Linked DNA regions of Homo sapiens: region 2 is linked to region 1. The links come from fine-mapping of genetic effects on gene expression. Tissue or cell type: blood mononuclear cells. Region 1 holds a variant in brackets; the other region holds the start of a gene. All regions are shown on one strand. Distances are from middle to middle.

Evidence for each region. PIP is the estimated chance that this variant, and not a neighbour inherited with it, causes the effect.
Region 2: it holds the start of MR1, and the variant in region 1 is fine-mapped to the expression of MR1 in blood mononuclear cells (TOPMed, PIP 0.95). The same link has a PIP of 0.9 or more in aorta.

What each region holds. Positions count from the first base shown.
Region 1 is chr1:181,053,995-181,056,677 of GRCh38, forward strand. It overlaps MR1 (major histocompatibility complex, class I-related), which reads left to right. Exons shown (of 6, transcript NM_001385161.1): 6 at 1,231-2,683. The coding sequence ends at 1,271. Among named protein-coding and RNA genes, the nearest start is that of MR1, 21 kb to the left of the region's middle. The variant G/A (reference allele first, on the strand shown) is at 1,274.
Region 2 is chr1:181,032,319-181,035,001 of GRCh38, forward strand. It overlaps MR1 (major histocompatibility complex, class I-related), which reads left to right and starts at 1,665. Exons shown (of 6, transcript NM_001385161.1): 1 at 1,665-1,756. The coding sequence starts at 1,690. RefSeq lists enhancers at 845-1,034, 1,235-1,334, 1,465-1,574.

The sequences.
Region 1 (2,683 bases):
TTTATTATTAATTACTATTGACTTCTGGGGCAGTGTCCTTTGTTTCAAGACTTCAGTCAGTTTTCCCATTTTGACCACCATTCTTTCATCCCAAGCATATGAAAGTCCTTTTCCTTGTAAATTCATTATTCAAAACATTAAATATGTAAGAGTAGATACCTTCAGGGAATGGGACTTAGAGTAAGGAAAAGGGGAGGAGAAGTAGGAGATATATAGGCTCTTGATAATGTGGAATAACATAAATTCATTCAGTAAGTATACATTAATGACCTACTGTGCTCCAGGCACTGTACTGGTTGCTGGGATATAACAATGAACAAGACAGATACGATCCCTGTTTTCATAGAGCTTACAATAGAGCCTGGTAAGGTTATCTCCTGGCTCTGGCTTCACTAATTGCTCAAATTGATCACAGGATAGTACCGATGAGACCATGCTTTGAACCCAAAGTGGACCAGAAGTTTGGTTTTCCTTCATAGACATAGACCTCAACTCCAATTCAGGTGATAACTGTACAAAAGCATGTTGTTAGATCAAAGTAAAACCAACCCTTTTACTAGAAAATCAGCTCAGAGGCCGGGCGTGGTGGCTTACAACTTGTAATCCCAGCACTTTGAGAGGCCGAGGCAGGCGGATCACTTGAGGTCAGGAGTTCGAGATCAGCCTGGCCAACATGGTGAAACCCTGCCTCTACTGAAAATATTAAAAAAAAAAAAATTAGCTGGGCGTGGTGGCACATGCCTGTAATCTCAGCTACTCAGGAGGCTGAGACAGGAGAATCGCTTGAACCTGGGAGGCGGAGGTTGCCGTGAGCAAAGATCGCTCCATTGCACTCCAGCCTGGGCAGCAAGAGCGAGACTCTGTCTCAAAAAAGAAAAAAGAAAAGAAAAGAAAAGAAAATCAGCTCAGAGAGTTAATGGGTTGTTAATGTTTTCTTTATAGATAAAGTACAGCACTAATCCTAATCCAATAAATGATAGTGAAACAAACAAAAAATTTTTTTACAATGACATCCCTCTCTCAATAATTATACAGACTGTGAGTTCCTGCTTTTTATCTTATAGAGTTTACAAATTTGAGCTAAAGTTTGTCAAGTACTAAGAGAATCTTGACAAAGCAAGCTAAAACTGTCGATGCCTGTTTCTCAGATTTTGCTGAACACTGCATACTTTATTTTTGAGCTGTGAGGAAACATTCTTGTAATCTGACTAAAAACCCCTTTCCTTTCAGAGCAAAATGGAGCCATCTACCTTCCAACACCAGATCGATGATT[G/A]CAGATCCCTCTTTTCCAGTTCTCCTTCCTCTAGGAGCCATGTTATCCTCTGTCCCCCATAGAGTCAAGCCTAGTGCTTGAAGGTCCTGACGACACCCACAACATACATGAGAGTAATGGGATTGAGCATTTATGGCAGCAACAGAGGAGCCACAAAATGTTCTTTGTTCTTTGGCTCCAAAAAGACTGTCAGCTTTCAGTCTCTTTTGATGGACTGTTTTATCAGAGTTGACTTTAAATACAGCTTGTCTCATGACACAACGCTTCCCTACATTCTATTTGTCAATGATGATTTGCAACTAGTTGGAGATTCTCAGAGCAGGAAGGAATCTTTTCAACCAGAGCAGGAACTGTCTTCTGCAATGCCTTGGACTTGAGCCTCCAGCCTCCACTTGAACACCATGTGAAGGGAACCTCAGTACTTCATAAAATGGCCTTTCTCATTCATCTTTCATGGGAACATTTATTGTACAAGCGCTTTGAATATCATGGGCACCATGACTGTGACCCTACAGGTAGGATTGGATCACTCCATGAGAGTAGCCGGCAGGTTTCTACAATGGCCTGGGAATGGACTGATTATTTTTATACATTTTCTGGCCTGAGAGAAAGCCAAAGTCCCCTGCTGTTCACAGCAACCCTGCCTGGGAGCTTGGAATCTTGGTAATCTGCCCGGTTGGATCTATGGAGGTAGTCTCACCCTTTTTGTCTTTTGTGGGAAATTAAGAGAAATAATTATCAGACATATCATCACCTCCAGTGGAACTACAGAGACCTGGACCCAGCTGCACTATTTTAATGTAAAAATAACAGTATGGCCAGGTGCAGTGGCTCACGCCTGTAATCCCATCACTTTGAGCAGCCAAGGCGGGCGGATCACGAGGTCAGGAGATTAAGACCATCCTGGCCAATATGGTGAAACCCTGTCTCTACTAAAATACAAAAAATTAGCTGGGCATGGTGTTGCGTGCCTGTAGTCCCAGCTACTTGGGAGGCTGAGACAGGGGAATTGCTTGAACCCGGGAGGCAGAGATTGCAGTGAGCCGAGATCACGCCACTGCACTCCAGCCTGGCGACAGAGTGAGACTCTATCTCAAAATAATAATAATAATAATAATAATAATAATAATAATAATAACAGTATATTTGGTGTCAGGAGAGGGCTCAATTCTCATTTCTGCCTTTCCTGTGCTGGCTCATGGTAGCTGGGCATGACTTGCCTTCCTACATAGGTTGTCTTCATACATATGCACTGGGAATCAATAAAAGCCCATGGTGAGAATGAACATCCCCTTAATGTTCCTTACTATCCCCAACCCCTGAGGCCTCACCTACTGCCCTGCCATGTGGAGCTACTTGCCCTGGGGCTGCCAGTCACACATTCCTCGGTCCTACTTCTCTGACCCCGTT
Region 2 (2,683 bases), 22 kb before region 1:
TGCTGAGAGACATTTGGGAATATTGGGGGAGTTTTCCAAAAGAGAAATCCAGGTGACTGTATTTGTTAAATGAGTAACAAAAGGAAAAACAATGTAAAGAAACAGAAAGGAAAGGAAGAGAGAAATACAAAGATCTGAGAAGAGAAGGTGCCAGGGGCCGCTGAGAGATTGCCAAATGTTAATTTCATTATTTGGCTTCTTATTTTATTCTGGGTAAAGGTAGACCTATTAGTTTCCTGTTGCTGCTATAACAAATTACCACCAACTTAGTGGCCTCGAACAATGCAAATTTATTCTTTCAAAGTTCTGGAGGACAGAAGTCCAAAAATGTGTCCTATCAGCTGAAATCAAAGTGTTGTGTTCCTTCTGGAGGCTCTAAGGAGAATCTGTTCCTTCTCTTTTCTAGTTCTAGAGGCCATCTGCGTTCCTTGGCTCATGTCCTTCTTTCAGCAATGGCATCATCACTCTGACCTTTGCTTCCATTGTCACATCTCCTTGACTCTGACCCTTTTGCCTCCCTCTAATAAGGCCCCTCTGATTACACTGGGTCCACCAGATAATCCAGGATAGCTCTCTGTCTCAAGATCCTTAATTTAATCATATCTGCCAAGGGTTTTGTTTTGTTTTATTTTGTTTTTGCCATTTAAGGTAATATATCCACAGGTTCTGGCAATTAGGTTGTGGACATCTTTGGGGCGACAATTCTCAACCTACCATACAACCGGTACATAAGGTTCTACTACCTACTAAATGCATCATAAACAGAACTTCTGATCCTTCAACAACTCTGTGAAATATATGACAGGATTTGCTTTTAAAGTTGAAGAAATCAGGCCTTGGTGCAATTTGGGATTCTGCCCATGGTCAAATAGTGGGGAGGCAAACCCAGGTCCCTGAACCCAGCTCAAGCCTGCCTGCCTCATGGCCATGCCTCCATTCACCTCTCCCCTTCATGTCTACTTCCTCTTTCCTGTCTGGGCCTGTTCCCTAGCTCCCTGGACAAGCTTAAGCTGCTGTTTTCCAGCTTGTCATGTGCTCCTTATGACAGTGTAGCCACAGCTTGATCTTGGGGATTGCTGATTGAGCAAGCTGAGTGGCTGCCCCTCAGAATCTTCTGTAGGCCTTTCTCTTGCCTTCTTTTATTCAGTAAGTGTTTTGAGCTTATTGTGCTGGGTGCTAGAGTAGCAGGGAGGACAGACCTAAGTTGAAGATTACGGGACAATCTAAGTGACACCTGCTATCTCAGACAGAGACTTCAGCATCATAGGGAGCCAGAGCAGGGAGTTCCAAGCCGTGGGAACTGTGACTCTTTCTTACTGACCCTTAAGCAAAATTCTAAGCTCCAGGGAAGCAGAGGCAGCAGCTTGAGCTCCCTGATTGACCAGATATGATTAATCTTTGTTTCTCTGTGCTTTGAACATGACTATGCTCCATAAATATTTAAAAATTGGGAATAGGGTGAAGATAGATACACCAAAAGGAGCAAGCAGTGTCTGAAACCAGCAAAGACTTAAAAGTTACCGAAGAAGGTGTTCATGCTTTCATTTTATCTTTTTTTTTTAACCTAGCAACTGATGACACTGCATATCTTCCCCTGTTCTTATTGGGAGAAGGCCTTGTGTGTCACCAAGAGGTTCTCAGAAGGGACCTGTCAGTTTTTGGTTAAAAGAACCCGGAAAGAGAAGGACTATGGGGGAACTGATGGCGTTCCTGTTACCTCTCATCATTGTGTTAATGGTGAAGCACAGCGATTCCCGTGAGTATCCCACGTCCTCTTCTCTCCTAACTCCAAAGTCGAGGCAGCCTAGAAGGCACAGCTTTTCTTCCTAAAACTTGTGGTGAAAAATATAGAAGCCAGGGGCAGAAACGTGTATGTATTACACTCAGACTCCAGGAGCAATGGATTGCCTGAACAGTTTCCCAGTTCATATTTGTAGGATTTTGATGTCACCACCTTCTGAGGGAGGGGGAGCCGTTCTAGAAAGACTCTGGAACTTCCTCACTTTCCCTCTGAGCATGGCCTCCTTTCTTTTCTGCTCATATTTTTTCTTTTACTTTTGTTTCTCCTCTTTTCTAACTTCCAGAGTCTCATGAGGATGTAGTCAGAGTTTCAGGGGCATTAACAGTGGAGTAGATCCATTGTTCAGGTTTATTTATGTTTTTCCTCAACACAAGCCCTACCTGTAATAAAAGATCCAAGAAAGATAAAACCATGGCTCTGGGTTTGTTTACTGACTGTGAGAAGTATTAATCAAGTAGAAGGGAGAGTTTTTCATTATTCGGGGAGCTCAAGTCACTGGGGAAGCAAATGCCTTCTGTTGCCTCAAATAGGGGAAAGGGCCCATGGGCTAGAACCACCAGGCTTCTCTGCCCTAATCACTTGCTCCCTGGGCTGAGGACTGGTACTGGTGGGCAGTGTCCAGAACTTAGACTTGGCCACCACCATAGGTGTGACTGATGAACATGAGAGGAAGGAGTTCTTTCAAATCACCCATGCACATAGAGAGTGGAATGACTGACCATGGAGATTTGGAAGGGCGAGGGGGGTGGATGATTAGAAATTACTTAATGGGTACAATGTGTGTTACTTGGGTGATGGATACCTTAAAGCCCCAACTTGACCACTACACAATCTATGCTATAACAAAATTGCATGTGTACATCATAAATTTATACAAATAAA